Linked DNA regions of Homo sapiens: region 2 is linked to region 1. A link means that fine-mapping ties the variant in region 1 to the expression of a gene that starts in the linked region. Tissue or cell type: skeletal muscle. Region 1 holds a variant in brackets; the other region holds the start of a gene. All regions are shown on one strand. Distances are from middle to middle.

Region 1 (8,257 bases):
AGTTGTCCAGTCTCATACCTGTTACCCTCCAGTTGATCAGGTCTGTCCAGGTGCTGTGACTCACCTTGCCAGCTCAGAGGAGACGCTGAGTGGTACGGCTGGGGAGCACAGGCTTAGAGGTGACCTGCAGCCAAAAGCATTTGGCTTTTGCTCTGCCAATGGTCCAGTGGATTAGGGGGTCTTCAGCCTGTTTCCTAATGCTCTGAGATTCTGTGCCAGCCCAGGTCCCTCTATTCTGGAAACAAAGGCCTAGATCCCCGTATTTCCTTCTTGCTGTTTTGTTTTTGTTTTTGAGAAAGAGTCTTGCTCTTTCTCCTGGAGTGCAGTGGTGTGATCTTGGCTCACTGCAACCTCCCCCTCCCGGGTTCAAGTGATTTTCATGCCTCAGCCTCCCAAGTAGCTGGGATTACAGATGTTGCACCATCACGCCCGGCCATTTTTTTTGTATTTTTAATAGAGATGGGGTCTTGCCATGTTGCTCAGGCTGGTTTCGAACTCCTGGCCTCAAGTGATTCACCTGCCTTGGCCTCCCAAAGTGCTGAGATTACATGTGTGAGCCACCATGCCCAGCCCCTTGCTGTTTTTATACCTTCTCTATATCCGTAACTGTTTCCAATGTAGGTTTTGTTTTTTTTTAATTTCTCATTTTTATTACCATGTAAGTTTTCTACTCCAGGAATGCAGGCCTGTGATCGTAGTATCCTGAGCGGAGCTGATAACATTTCCAGAAGTAGGGAATAATGGAGAGAGAAAAAATATCTTAATGGGATGGGACATTTTGAGGAGAGTAGGCTTTTTTAAAAACTCCATCTTGGCTACAAGACTTAAAATAATGAAATAACTTGGTTGCTCACAAAATAATCATGCTATGTGTGTCAGAAAGTCCTCAGAAAAATGCTTTTTCAGCCAAGTGCAGTAGCTCATGCCTGTAATCCCAGCACTTTGGGAGACTGAGGAGGGTGGATCACCTGAGGTCAGGAGTTCGAGAGCAGCCTGGCCAACATGGTGAAACCCCATCTCTACTAAAAATACAAAAATTAGCTGGGCGTGGTAGCGTGCACCTATAATCCCAGCTGCTTGGGAGGCTGAAGCAGGAGAATCTCGAACTCAGGAGGCGGAGGTTGCAGTGAGTGGAGATCTCGCCACTACACTCCAGCCTGGGCGACAGAGTGAGACTCCCATCTCAAAAAAAAAAAAAAAAAAAAATTCCCTTCCTCTGAGCATTCTTGTGTCTAATCCTAGAGATCAGTGGGAACCGAAGATGCCAGGAGGGCCCTAAAGCCTAGCAGGGTCCATTGCTAGGAGTGCCAGCCTTCCCTCAAGGCTAATGCCTGGCCAGCAACTGAACCCTTGCTCTGACCTATTAGATTCAGTTGTAGGCATTGTCAAGGAAACACCAGGTTCCATGGTCACAGTAAACTTGCAAAGATGCAAAGGCAGCTTGGCTCATCTTCAGTTCCACCAGCCTCTGCAGCACTTGCTCTAAGGAGGGAAGCAGATTTGGGTTTTCAGAAGCCAGGGCTGAAGGGTCCAGTGAGCGCGCAGTCCTTTCCCTGGAGAGAGGTGTAGTCACTTCTCCCAGACCCAGCTTCCGTGGCCAGGCCCTGGCTCCCTGGTGTTTTTCTCTTGTCCAGCTTAGCTGGTCAGCCAGCTTTTTCCACTGTCTGCCCATCTGGCTTGTCAGATATTAGAAGATCTCTAGAACCAGAGGCTTGGGCGAAGAGTAAGGTCAGAGCCTGGAGAGAGGCTGGGTGGGGCTCTGATCAAGCAGGTAGGTCCAGTTGGGGGCAAGGGAGAGGCTCCACATGACCCCAAGTTCTGAATCCTAGGATTGTCCTCAGGTACTATTCCCAGGAAAGAGGCCCTACAACTTCCAAGTTGCCAAGAGCCACAGGGAAGATGTCTTACCTCTGTTTTCTTGGGTGGTTTCTTGGCTGGGTAGATGTTTTTGGAGGTAAGAGGTCGGGGTGGGGGTGTTGGCCATGGTTTATCCTCTTTTTACCTCCAGAGAGTTGGAGAGAGTCTTCTAGTTGGGCAGCTTTTTTTTTTTCCCCCTGAAAAGGCCTGAATCAGAAACACAGCCAGTAGGCCAAGTGCAATGGCTCACACCTGTAATCTCAACATTTTGGGAGACCAAGGTGGATCACTTGAGCCCAGGACTTTGAGACCAGCCTGGGCAAGATGGCAAGACCATGTTTCTATAGAAATTAGCTGAGCATGGTAGTGTGCACCTATAATCTCAGCTACTAGGGAGGCTGAGGTGGGAGCATTGCTTGAGCCCAGGAGGTGGAAGCTGCAGTGAACTATGATTGTGCCACTGCAGGGGAGAAGGGAAGGGAGGAAAGGAGGAGACAGGCAGATAGCTACATTGTGCATTGCCCAGACAACTACTTCCTCATCACCATCCTCTGCCCAGTAGGGGCCCAGTGAGGGTCACTCTGCAGCACAGACTGGCCTTCTGGAAGAACAGTGCCTTTCTCCTCCCTGACTTTGGCACACCTTCCTCCTGCCTGCTGTGGCTGCCACAGGTCAGAGCCTGCTGCTGTCTTTTGCTGAGCTCCAGGGAGAGCGAGGTCCTCGTGTTCATGAAGGAGGCCGTGCAGCCCCTGCTTTGAGCTTTGGCCATCTGAAATGCTGCCTAGCAGCCCAAGGCCTGGGCAACCAATCCACACCCCTGAGTGGCTCCTAGCATGTGTGACTGTCACTCTGACTGCAGCAACACCTGTCCTACCTGTTCCACACCCTTGTGTTCATAGTACTGAGGCACCTCTCCCGCATGGCCCCCTAACCCCCTGCTCTGTTCTGTGACAGACACCCAAGGACAATGCTGCTACTCTACAACCATCTGATGACACCGTGTTACCTGGCGGTGTCCCTTCCCCTGGTGCCAGTCTCACTAGCATGGCGGCATCTCAGGTTCGTGCCTCCTCCCCCTCTGCCCACTGCCCTCCTGTACCTATTATGCATTATCTTCTCCTTTCACAGGCAGCTTGTTCCCTAGGGTCAAGGGCCCTTCCTGGGGACCGGGCCGGGGGAAGGCTCAGACTGGGCTTTTTTCCTTGAGGCCTGGGGAGATTGAAGATTGTTAGAATGAGTTTGGGAGCTTGACTCACCCCATCCTGGGTGATTCTTACCAGAAATTGAATGACCATCTCACACGTTTCTTCCCAAACAGAATCATGATGCTGACAATGTCCCTAATCTCATGGATGAAACCAAGTGAGTGTCTCCTGTTGGGGCAGCAGTCTCTAGGCTGAGAGAGTCAGGGAGGCCACTGCCCATGACCTTCTTTCCCATTGAGCCACCTGCACCCCTGACCCCTGTGTCTCCATCCCTAGGACTTTCTCATCAACCGAGAGCCTGCGACAACTCTCCCAACAGCTCAATGGTCTTGTTTGTGAGGTACCTCAGGAACTGAGGCCGAGAGCGGGG[T/G]GGGGGGAAGGGAACTATGATAGAAACTGAAGCAGGGATTCACAAGAGAGAGGGAAGATCCTGGGACCAGCCAATGTGCTGGGCAATGTTAAGGAAGTCGCCTTTTCCCTGAGCCTTCTCCCTTGAAGTTGTGCACATGAAGGAGTTGGACCCCATGACTGGTTGCATCATTGTATCCTGCTGCAGAAGCACTGGATGAGAGCTGCTCGGGAGGAAAGGATGGTGGGGAAATAAGAACCATGAGAGAAGTTGGCACAAAGGGGTTACGGGACAGAGGGTCCAAGTTAGAAAAGAAAATGTTGCCAATTGCTGGGGAAGAAACGAAGTTAGAGGGCTTAGACACTGAGGGGACAGAACATCTCCATGTGCACTCTCGTCTCTTATAGTCTGCGACATGTGTCAATGGGGAGGGCCCTGCATCGTCTGCTAACCTGAAGGATCTGGAGGTAAGAGGCCCTGGGCCGTGGCCCAGTGACCCTGCAGGCCAGCCCTCCAACCTCCTCCCACAGCGGGGGCTGGGTGCCCCTCTGCCAGCTGAGACAGCCCACACACCCCCCAACCCTAATGATTGCTCTCTCTACCTCTCCCCCCAATCCTCCTCCAACTCCTCCTCTCTGCATGCGCCTCAGAGCCGGTACCAACAGCTAGCGGTAGCCCTGGACTCCAGCTATGTAACAAACAAACAACTCAATATCACGATAGAGAAATTGGTAAGAGTCCAGTGGGGTCCCCTGATTCCATGCTGCTAATCCTGGGCTCCAGTTTCCCCTTGGGACCCTGAAGAAAGGGGCAGGGGGCCCCTGGTGCCAAGGGCGAATGGGGAGCTGGGGGGCCCAGGCCTCAGCTGGAGGGACCCCAGAGCACGGAGCATGCAGCATGGCTCTTCTGTTGCTGCCCTCTTTGCCTACTCTCTCTTCTCTAGACACCCCTGCTCGAGTCCTTGCCACACACGCCCTGGGGTTGTTGCCTCTTGGGGAAGCGCTAGCCTGACTGGTTGTCAGGAGCCCTGTATTTCTGCCCTGACTCAGTCCTTAATTTGCTCTTTGATTTGGGACAAGCCACCTCTCCTCCTTGGGCTTGCATTTCCTGAGGAGGTAGAGTTAGAGAGTATCAAAGGTCTCTTAGCTCTGAGAGTCCAAGATTTAAAGGCCCATTAGAATGTAAACCTCAGGGCCAAGGGCTCCTGTCTGTCTTTTTCTGTCTGGTATCCCTGCTATTAAGAACCGTACCTGGCCTGTGTGTGCTCAGCAAATGTTTGTTGAATGATTACACCTTTCTAAATCACAAACTGGCAGAGGGTGGGCTTTTCTCACACTCCATCTCTAGAGGTTTATGTTACTGTCCTTTCAAGAGAATCGAGATTCAGACTTTCAGTTCTGTGGCTGTGGGCAAAAACCAACAAAGACACAAATCCCCTTTCCTTGAGAGCCTGAGGAGAGTTTACCAGTTCGTGTTCCCATTGGGTCTGAGAACTTTGCCTTTAAAATCCATTCCTGGCCCCTGCCTACCCGTTCCTGGTCTGGGGAATAGAGTTGAGGGGGCCACCCTCAGTCACCTTCCTTTGACTCTTCCCCACAGAAACAACAGAACCAAGAAATTACGGATCAGTTGGAAGAAGTAACGTGATTTCTTTGTTTGCTCACAACATGACTGCTGGGTTTGGGGGGCATTCAAATGTAGAGGCCTCAGTCTCGTCTCACCCACTCCCAGCCTGGGGAAGAAGGCTCACCCCCCCAGATTCCACCCCATCCCCACAGGGTCCCTGATAACCTGGTCCCATGGGTGGGCCTGTCCTGGGACATTGGTGGCATTCTGGGGGCATGTCCCTTGCTGTGCCGTCTCTGCCTCCCCCTCGTAAGAGCTCTGTCTTCCTCTTCCTATAGGAAAAGAAAGAATGCCACCAAAAGCAGGGAGCCCTAAGGGAGCAGTTACAGGTGAGTGGAGGGTGTGAAGTTCCGTCCTGTCCTCTGGAGAATGTTTCTTTCCTTCTTTTTCAGCACTTGCTTGGGTTTCCTCCCAAAGGTTCACATTCAGACCATAGGGATCCTCGTATCAGAGAAAGCTGAGTTACAGACAGCCCTGGCTCACACTCAGCATGCTGCCAGGCAGAAAGAAGGTGGGAATCTGGGCACCCCATCATCCTTCAACCTGGCACTTTGACAGGCCTTTAGGGGGAGTCCTTTGGGCCCCATCTCAACCTCTCTCATTCCAGGAGAGTCTGAAGATCTGGCCAGCCGCCTGCAGTATTCCCGGCGGCGTGTGGGAGAGTTGGAGCGGGCTCTCTCTGCTGTCTCCACGCAGCAGAAGAAGGCAGACAGGGTGAGTCCAACTGCCTGCCCCGTCCCCTGGCATACTGGCTTCCCAGATGGAGGAGTGAGCCTAAAGGTCCCTTCTGCAGGGTTGACTGTCCTGCCTAGAAGGCAGCATGGGCCATTTATCACTGCTTTTGTGTGTGGTTGCTAGAGGCATCCTGGGGCTGAGTCAGCTGCTGTGGGTGAGTTTGGGGGCACTGTGGGGAGTGAACACTGGACGCAGAGCTCGGAGGCCAAGTGCCCGCTGTGCCGTTACCTGGCTGTGGCCTTGGTCAAGTCCTAGGTGGGGGAATATGGTACTTGTACTGTGAAGGTACAGAAGAGTATCTTTAGTATGTTACCATTTGTGTAGAGAGAGGGAACGTGTGTGTGTATGTGTACCTATGTACTATGACAATATACATAAAACGTGTCTGCATGGATTCATAACAAACTCAGGAGAGAGGAACAGCACGGCTGGAAGATATTTCCCTTCTGCCCTTTCGGAGTTTTGGACTATCTGAATATATCATCCTTTCAAAAACTGAACAAAAGATAATTTCCCCCTTCCTATTTGTGCCCCCACCCTCGGGGAACAAATGAGCTTAGAGAGTCAGATATACCTGGGTGTTCAAATCCGAGCTCTGTCTAAGTGATCTTAGGCAAGCACTTAACCTCTAATATTCCGTGTTGTCCATCTACAAAATAGAGGTAATAATAGTAACTGTCTCATGTGGTGGTTATGAGGATTAAATGGGATTGTTAGCATGGTGCCTGGTGAAGCATTCAATAAAGGTTCAAACAGTGGTAGTAATAATGATAATAACAATAGCAATATTATCTGATCTCTCTGGGCCTCTGTTAGCCAGCTGTAAATTCGATCTTGGCCAGGTGTGGTGGCTCATGCCTGTAATCCCAGCACTTTGGGAGGCCGAGGCAGGTGGGTCAACTGAGGTCAGGAGTTCGAGACCAGCCTGACCAACATAGCAAAACCCTGTGTCTACTAAAAATGCAAAAAATTAGCCAGGTGTGGTGGCGTGCCCCTGTAATTGCAGCTACTTGGGAGGCTGAGGCAGGAGAATTGCTTGAACCCGGGGGCGGAAGTTGCGGTGAGCTGAGATCGTGCCACTGCCCTCCAGCCTGGGTGACAGAGGGAGACTCTGTCTGAAAATAAATAAATAAATAAATAAATAAATAAATAATAACAAAAATTAGCCAGGCATGATGGCGCATGCCTGTAATCCTAGGTACTCAGGAGCCTGAGGCAGGAGAATCACATGAACCCGGGAGGCAGAGGTTGCAGTGAGCCAAGATGGCGCCACTGCACTCCAGCCTGGGTGACAGATGGAGACTCCATCTCAAATAAATACATATATACATACATACGTACATACATAAATTCGCTCTCTCTCCCTGTTCCTTCCACCCTTACCAAGTCCTTTTTTTTTGAGACGGAGTCTCACTCTGTTGCCCAGGCTGGAGTGCAGTGGCACCATCTCGGCTCACTGCAAGCTCTGTCTCCCGGGTTCATGCCATTCTCCTGCCTCAGCCTCCCGAGTAGCTGGGACTACAGGCACCTGCCACCACGCCTGGCTAATTTTTTGTATTTTTTTTTTTTTTAGTAGAGATGGGGTTTCACCGTGTTAGCCAGGATGGTCTCGATCCCCTGATCTCGTAATCCGTCCCCCTCGGCCTCCCAAAGTGCCAGGATTACAGGCGTGAGCCACCGCACCCGGCCACCCTTACCAAGTTTTTTTAAAAACAAATGAGACCAGCCGGGTGCCGTAATCCCAACACTTTGGGAAGTTGAGGCGGGCGGATCACTTGAGGTCAGGAGTCAAGACCAGCCTGGCCAACATGTTGAAACCCCCTCTCTATTAAAAATAAAAAAATTAGGCCAGGCATGGTGGCTCACGCCTGTAATCCCAGCACTTTGGGAGGCTGAGACGGGCGGATCACAAGGTCAGGAGATCGAGACCATCCTTGCTAACACAGTGAAACCTCGTCTCTACTAAAAATACAAAAAAATTAGCCGGGTGTGGTGGCGGGGGCCTGTAGTCCCAGCTACTTAGGAGGCTGAAGCAGGAGAATGGCATGAACCCGGGAGGCGGAGCTTGCAGTGAGCCGAAATTGCGCCACTGCACTCCAGCCTGGGCAACAGAGACTCCATCTCAGAAAAAACAAAACAAAACAAATTAGCCGGACATGGTGGTGCACGCCTATAGTCCCAGCTACTCAGGAGGCTGAGGCAGGAGAGTCACTTGGACCAGGGAGGCAGAGGTTGTGAGCTGAGATCTCACCACTGCACTTCAGCCTGGGTGACAGAGGGAGACTCTGTCTCAAAAACAACAACAGCAACAACAAAATGAGACCATGGGCTTGGAAATGCCTTGAAAACATGTCAAGTGTGATTGAGAGTGAGGAAGTGTTACTGTGGAGTACTTACTGTAGCTGTTGTTACTGGTTGGCCAGCTGCTCCTCTGCCTGCTATATCCTGACTTAACCTTTCTGTATTTACAGTACAACAAGGAGTT
Region 2 (8,000 bases), 150 kb before region 1:
TGAGTTACTGATCTAAGACCTTTATCTGGGATCTGGCTTAGAAAATGGATCCAAACACCTACTCTGAGCTCTAGTTCAGAGATCCAGGCTCAATTTATACCCTGGGCTCTAGCCCAGAAATCGAGGCTCAGTAAAGTGTATACAACGGGATCTATCTGAGGGGTCCAGGCTTAGTACCTAGTCTGAGCTTTTAACATAGGGATCCAATCTGAACATCTGGTCTGGGCTCTGGCCCAGATAGCCTGCCGAAGGATCCAGCCTTCGGGTGGGTCAGTCACATTCAGATTTCTTTTTCTTTTTTTTTTTTTTTTGAGACTGAGTTTCACTCTTGTCACCCAGGCTGGAATGCAGTGGCATGATTTCAGCTCAGTGCAACCTCTACCTCCCAGGTTCATGCCATTCTCATGCCTCAGCCTCCCAAGCAGCTGGAATTACAGGCGCCTGCGACCACGCCCAGCTAATTATTGTATTTTTAGTAGAGATGGGGTATCACCATGTTGGCCAGGCTGGTCTCGAACTTCTGACCTCAGGTGATCCACCTGCCTTGGCCTCCCAAAGTGCTAGGATTATAGGCGTGAGCCACTGCACCCAGCCTATACCCAGATTTCTATCAGGGACGGATACTACCGCCTTTCAGAAGCCCGATTCTAGCCAGACTTCCTCACCAGGATATAGTCGGCCCCCCAGTTCCTGGCAAAGGTGAGGGCTTCCTGCTTCAGCTCCATCAGAAACTGGTGCCTTTCTTTGGTCCAGTGCTTGGGACCCTCTTCATCTGGGTAGAACCTGAGGGGATAGAGGTGAGATGTTCCCATGGGGTACATGCCCCTCCCTCTCTGCAGGGCAGTGGACAGAGCCCTGGCTTGGAGGCTGTGGCTCTGGGCTGTCCCTTTTCCTCTCTGGGCTGCAGCTGTTCTCCATCTTCCCCAGCACCCTTCCCCTCAGATCACCACCTGGGCTCGCCCTCAGGCCTCCAGACCACAGCAGCATAGTCATCGCCCACAGCCGCCAGCCACTCCTGCAGCATCTCTGTGGTGTTGTCCACATTGTGGTCCGTGGCACACCTGGGGACGGGAAGAAAAAAGGCTGAGGGGGCACAGCCACAGGATTGAACCCCAAGGCAGCCTTGACCCCAAAGCACTAACACCTTTGAGGTCGAGCTCTCCTTGGAACAGTGAAGGGTAGGTGTGCTACAGCAGAGAGGCTGGAGGCAGCACAGCCAGGTCCCCACCACAGTTCTGTGACCTGCTGTGTGACCTCAGGCAAGTCCCATCTTTCTCTGGGCTTCACGTCCTCCCTCTATAACTTAAGCTGTCCTGCTTATGTCATGGACAAAGATAAGAGAAGAATAATGCATTTTTTTTGAGATGGAATCTTGCTCTGTCGCCCAGGCTGTAGTGCAGTGGTATGATCTCGACTCACTGCAACCTCCGCCTCCCGGGTTCAAGTGATTCTCCTGCCTCAGCCTCCTGAGTACCTGGGATTACAGGTGTGCACCACCATGCCCGGCTAATTTTTGTTTGTTTAGTAGAGATGGGGTTTCACCATGTTAGCCAGGCTGGTCTTGAACTCCTCACCTCAGGTGATCTGCCCACTTCGGCCTCCCAAAGTGCTGAAATTACAGGCGTGAGCCACCACACCTGGCCAACGAATGCATTTTGAAAGATGAAAAGTACCTCGACTTTAAGGATCACACCTGGTGCATTCCCTGGTTACCTTCGTTAGGTGGGCAGATACCTACCTATGTGACCTGTGGCTGTGTGACCACAGGCCAGCCCCTGTCCCTCTCTGAATGGGGACTAGACAGAAGAGCTGCTGCTTTCCTCCACCCCCAGGTTGTAATAAGGACCAAACCATGCTCTAAGCGTCCCTAAGAATGCAGATGGGTCCAAGCTCTGCTGTCATGGGGCACAGCCTCCCCTCTCCTGGGGAAGGGGCCCCCATAACAGAGGTGGGGGTTTAGCCAAGTGCCCAGGTTTTGGGTGATGCTGCCCCTTTAAGCCAATTCCCCAGAAATGAAGACTACGTGTCAAGTCTTACAGGGGTGGGAACTAACAAACTCCCAAACTGTGGTAATTGTGGGCGGCCTCCCCAGGCCAGGGCTCCACCCCCCCAGCCCAACTGTGGTGTGTTGAAGAGGGTGGCTTGTCATTTTTCTCAGTTTACCCCCAACCTCAGCCAGGGACTCCTCCCTGTTCTGGTGTCTACAGACCAGGGGTTGTGGCCTTCGATCCCAGTGCCCTGGGGGTACAGAGATGCCAGAGGGGAGAGGCTCCAGGAAGGGGGACTGCCCTTGGCTGACAGGATCCCGCCCCTCTACCAAGATCTACCAAGAGAGCTGGCCCCAGCACGGGGGCGGTGGGGGGGCCGGTCTGACTCCCCTGCACAGCCCGGAGCCCAGTGCTGATGGCACCCCCAACCTGTGCCCGGAAGCCTCCAGCGTGGTCGATCCCTGCCACGTTGGGCCCCAGTGGACTTCAGAGGTTCCTGTCTGCTCCTCTTCAAATCCAGCCAACCACAGGTCCCACTGGGGTTGAGCTGGGCCCTGAAGGCTGGGGTGAAAAGGGCTGGCTGGGCCCAACCTACACCCAGGGAAGGCCCCAAGAGGAAGGAGTAGGGGACCAGAAGGAGGGGTGGGTGTCCCGCGTCGGCCTGTGGCCTCAGAGGTCTGTCGTCTCCCAGCAGGGGGCTCGGGGTCCTCTCTGGCGGCTCGGGCTGGCAGGGCCGTCTGTGAGGGGAGGGGCCTGTCTAGGTGGTGTCTGGGCAGGGAGCGAGCAGACAGGGCCGCCGGGGGCGGGGGCCATCTGCGAAGCTGGGGGTTAGGTGCCCACTCGGTGCCAATGCCCGGGTCTCTCACCAGAGGGCCATCCTGGCCCGGGGGTAGTCCAGCCGCTCCAGAGCGCCCAGGTAGTGGGGCAGCGAGTGTTCGGCATTGCGGGCCAGGATGGCAAGGACCACGGCGGGCAGCGGCGACTCCGCAACGCCCGCAGCCTCCAGCCACGGCCCCAGCAGGAGCAGCAGCTGGAGCAGCGGCGCGGCGCGGGCAGCGCGCATGGCGGGCGCTTGGGCGGCTGCAGCGGCCCCCGGAGCTCTCGGGCCGGCCGAGGGGAGGGGGCGGGGCCTGGGGCCCGGGCGGGGCCGAGGCAGACCCGGAGAGGGCGGGGCAGTGCACCCTCAGAGTGGGATCCTGCTCCCCACCCCTGTGCGTGGATGCTCAAGTTTTCTCTCCTTGGCCCGGGGCACCGGAGGGCCAGGGCCCGGGGACCCGCGCCAGCCGCGACCCTGGAGCAGCCCCGCCCGGCTGGACCCCGGAGGGGCGACGGCGGAGGGGCCGGAGGACCGGACAGGGGAGGGGTGCTAGGACGAGTGCGTCGGGGCCGGCCGGGCGTCCGAGAACAGTAGGGGCTCATGGAACCCCTGGGCGTTGAACCCCCGGAATCCGGATTCCCCGGCCCACGCAGCCGACTCTTCGACCTGAGCCGCAGACCCAGAGGGGCGGCGCCCACTCGGCCACCACCTCCCGGGCTTCCCCGGCTCCCGCCCCATCCTCCGCCCCGGGCGCCCTCTGGCGGCCCTGGCGCTAGCTCCGCAGACCAGCCGGGCCACGCGTGGGCCGGAGACCCAGCGTGGGGGGCGCAGAGGGAGTCCCCCTGAGCTGGGCGCGTCCTCCCGCGGCGGTCCGCTCCTTAAGTCCCCTGTGCGTCACCTCCTTGCGTCGGTCGCCAGCACCCGCATTGCTTCGGCCCTTTAAGAGAGCACAGCCAGGCCGGGCGTGGTAGCTCACGCCTGTAATCCCGGCACTTTGGGAGACCGAGGCGGGAGGATCACCTGAGATCAGTTCAAGACCAGCCTGGCCAAGATGGTGAAATCCCATCTGTACTAAAAATACAAAAATTAGCCGGGCGTCGTGGCGGGTGCCTGTACTCCCAGCTACTTGGGAGGCTGAGGCAGGAGAATCGCTTGAACCCGGGAGGCGGAGGTTGCAGTGAGCCGAGATCGCGCCACTGCACTACAGCCTGGATGACAGACCGAGACTCCGTCTCAAAAAGAAAAAAAAAAAAAGAGCACAGCCCTCACAGCCCTCTCTTGGTCTGAGTGTAGAACTAGGGGACACCACGGAGCTGCTCACTGCGACCCGACCCGTCCGTCCTCCAAAGCAGGGGATGTTGGCTCCCCTGGAGCACCGCCGGGGTCCTTAGGACCCTGCTGGGAGGGAAAGAACTCTGCAGCCTCTCGGGAGAGGAGCAGAAAAGGGAGCGGCCTGGCGGCACCACAGATGGGATCGAACTGGGTGTCTGTCACCAACCTCAGACAGGTCCCTTTCCCTCAGGAGCCTCTCGGGTAAAATCGGGCTGATAACGCCACCCATCTGGGAGGGTTTGCAGGGATTCCTCGAGAGAATGAATGCACTGGCAGCTTTTCCCGCGTGGAGGCTTACACACAGGAAGAGCTCCGCCCTGGGGCTGGGAAGACAGGACTGGAGGAGAGGGAGGCTCCCCCTTCACCCTCCCACCGCTGGGAAGATCTCCTTTCCTAGGAACAGCACGGGGTCTCCCTTCAGCCTTTTCCCAGGGTCAGGGAGGGGAGCCAGGGCTGTGCACACTATCTCCACTGCAAGGGGAGGGCTGAAGGTCCATAGAGGAAGGAACTTACCTAGTGCAGGGGCAGCACGTGCGCACTGAACCCTGGAGTCCTGATCTCTAGCCTAGCTCAAAGCCTCCACCAGGATCGGGTGGCAGCTTCCATTTGAGGCCATTTCTAGGCCAGCGGCCCTGCAATGAGAAGCATTCTGGAGAGATGCCAGATTTCTTCTCCCTTGCACGGTAGTCCCCTGCGGGAAGCCACTCCCAGCCCCAGAAGAGGGATTCCCTTTCTAAAGCAAAGCAGTGTTCCCTACTTCACCCACCCCAGAGTCATTCCACAGCCTCTGCCTGTCCTATTGGTCCAAGGGTGCTATGGTCAGAATGTCCGTGACCCTCAAAACTCACATGTTGAAAACCTAATGTTAATGTCAGGGTATTAAGAAGCGGGGCCGGCACGGCGCGGTGGCTCGCGCTTGTAATCCCAGCACTTTGGGAGGCGGAGGCGGGCGGATCACGAGGTCAGGAGATCAAGACCATCCTGGCTAACACGGCGAAACCCTGTCTCTACTAAAAAATAGAAAAAAATAGCCGGGCGTGGTGGCGGGCGCCTGTAGTCCCAGCTACTCAGGAGGCTGAGGCAGGAGAATGGCGTGAACCCAGGAGGCGGAGCTTGTAGCGAGCCGAGATCGCGCCACTGCACTCCAGCCTGGGCGACGGAGCGAGACTTCTGTCTCAAAAAAAAAAAAACAAAAAACAAAAAACAAAAAAAAAAACAGGCGGGGCCTTTGGGAGTTGATTGGGTGGGCTGCCCCACCTGAATGCGGCTAGTGCCCTTATAAAAGAGGCCTGGGGGCCGGATGCGGTGGCTCACGCCTGTAATCCCAACACTTTGGGAGGCTGAGGGGGGTGGATCATGAGGTCAAGAGATCAAGACCATCCTGGCCAACATAGTGAAACCCCATCTTTACTAAAAATACAAAAATCAGCTGGGTGTGGTGTCGCGTGCCTGTAGTCCCAGCTACTCAGGAGGCTGAGGCAAGAGAATCGCTTGAACCCAGGAGGCAGAGGTTGCAGTGAGCCAAGATCATGCCACTGTACTCTAGCCTGGCAACAGAGCGAGACTCCGTCTCAAAAAGAAAAAAGAGGCCTGGGGAGCTTGTCAACCCCTTCTGCCACATGAAGACACAGCTAGAAGGCCCCAGGTATGAGGAACGGGCCCTTACCAGACACCAAATCTGCTGACGCCTTGACCTTGGACCTCCCAACCCCCCAGAACTATTAGCAATAAATTTCTTTTTTTTTTTTGGCCAGGGGTTGGGGGGTGGTTCAAGCAATTCTCCTGCTTCAGTCTCCTGAGTAGCTGGGATTACAGCCACACACCACTATGCTTGGCTAATTTTTTGTATTTTTAGTAGAGATGGGTTTTCACTACGTTGGTCAGGCTGGTCTCGAATTCCTGACCTCAGGTGATCCAGCTGCCTCAGCCTCCCAAAATGCTGGGATTACAGGTGTGAGCCACTGCACCCGGCTGATAAATTTCTGTTGTTTATACATTATGCAGTCTAAGATATGTTGTTATAGCAGCCCAAACGGACTAAGACAGGGGGCTTCCTGATTCTTCCCTGGCCTCAAGTCCTCCTCTTCCCCCAAGTCCTCCCACCCTCCCCAGGAGTCCAGCCTGTTACTAACTTTCTTGCCTCAGAGTTTTCCCATCACACCTGCCTGGAAAACCCAATAGCCATCTTGTTTTGGGGCAGGTTGGGGCAACTGCAAACTCAGGGTCTCTACCCTCACTTGGGCTCTCACCCAGCCCAAGAATCCTGTTTCCCTGTGTCCCCTGCCCACTCCCCTCAGGGCATTTCAAATGCTTCTAGTCATTGAGGCACGGTGGCTCATGCCTGTAATCCCAGGACTTCGGGAGGCTGAGGTGGGCAGATCACTTGAGGCCAGGAGTTCGAGACCAGCCTAGGAAACACAGTGAAACCCTGTCTCTATTAAAAATACAAAAAAAGGCCGGGGCAGTGGCTCACACCTGTAATCCCAGCACTTTGGGAGGCTGAGGCAAGTGGATCACCTGAGGTCGGCAGCTCAAGACCAGCCTGACCAACATGAAGAAACCCCGTCTGTACTAAAAACACAAAATTAGCTGGGCATGGTGGCGTGTGTCTGTAATCCCAGCTACTCAGGAGGCTGAGGCAGGAGAATCACTTGAACCCAGGGGGGCAGAGGTTGCAGTGAGCCGAGATCGCGCCATTGCATTCCAGCCTGGGCAACAAAGGCGAAACTCCGTCTCAAAAAAAAAAAAATAGTAATAATACAAAAAAAAATTAGCCAGGTGTGGTGGCACATGCCTGTAGCCCCAGCCACTTGGGATTCTGAGGCAGAAGAATCACTTGAACCTAGGAGGTGGGAGTTGCAGTGACCTGAGATCACGCCACTGCACTACAGCCTGGGTGACAGAGTGAGATTCTGTCTCAACAAAACAAAACAAAACAAAACAAAACAAAGCCTCCAGTCTTCTCAAGCCCCCATTCCACCGCCCCTCTCCCCCAGCAAAGATCTCTCTACTACTTTTTGGAGAAAATAGAAGCCATTACCTGGGAACTCTCATTTCTAGCCTCCAAACCTTCCACCTCTGCCCTCAGCCAGCCTCAGGAGGCACACCCCTCCTCAACAGAACGGCCCCTGTGAAACCGCCTTTGCAAATTTGTAACTCAGGAAATTATGACAGCGGAACAAATCAGACCTAACTGATTCTGTCTTGCTTCTAACCCTTAAGCTGTCCTTGTTCACTCCTGGGCGTAGGCTGAACTAACTTTGGGAAGGAATTCAGTTCATGGTTTGACTCTGAAACAAAATTTATAACAGCCCTTTCCCAAAAAGACCCTTCTTCTTGCCTGGGGTCCAGTCTGCCTTTGCAGGACTGGCAAAGTAGCTATAAGATTAGAAATTACAATTTAGGGGTCATGCAGCCTTTGGGTCCTCCCCAAATTGCTCCTGGGGTAACATCACTATTGTAAAACCTAAAGTCAGTGCTTGAGATATTCTGCAGACCCTGCACCCGATGGATCAGCTGACACCAGCCAGACCAGTAATCTGGCCCAACCAGTTCTACCATCGCACCCAGGAACAGAAGACATTAAGAATACCTAACTTCCACCTCCTATGATTCCATCTCCAATCTGACCAATCAGCATTTTCCACTTTCCAAGCCCCTACCTGCCAAATTATATTTAAGAACTCTGATCCCCACATGACTGGGGAGAACCGATTTAAGTAATAATAAAACTCCGGTCTCCCGCACAGCCGGCTCTGTGTGAATTACTCTTTCTCCTTTGTAATTCCCCTGTCTTTTTTTTTTTTTTTTTTTTTTTTGAGACGGAGTCTCGCTCTGTCACCCAGGCTGGAGTGCAGTGGCGT

What was found. PIP is the estimated chance that this variant, and not a neighbour inherited with it, causes the effect.
Region 2: CERCAM starts here. The variant in region 1 is fine-mapped to the expression of CERCAM in skeletal muscle (GTEx, PIP 0.95).

Annotation. Positions count from the first base shown.
Region 1 is chr9:128,263,079-128,271,335 of GRCh38, reverse strand. It overlaps GOLGA2 (golgin A2), which reads left to right. Exons shown (of 27, transcript NM_001366244.2): 4 at 2,812-2,916; 5 at 3,176-3,219; 6 at 3,339-3,402; 7 at 3,819-3,878; 8 at 4,062-4,142; 9 at 5,011-5,049; 10 at 5,316-5,366; 11 at 5,455-5,548; 12 at 5,645-5,751; 13 at 8,244-8,257. Among named protein-coding and RNA genes, the nearest start is that of GOLGA2, 8.8 kb to the left of the region's middle. The variant T/G (reference allele first, on the strand shown) is at 3,433.
Region 2 is chr9:128,415,929-128,423,928 of GRCh38, reverse strand. CERCAM (cerebral endothelial cell adhesion molecule) reads right to left here and starts at 3,072. Exons shown (of 13, transcript NM_016174.5): 1 at 2,855-3,072; 2 at 951-1,061; 3 at 666-783. The coding sequence starts at 3,051. RefSeq lists an enhancer at 2,337-2,526 and a silencer at 2,787-3,686.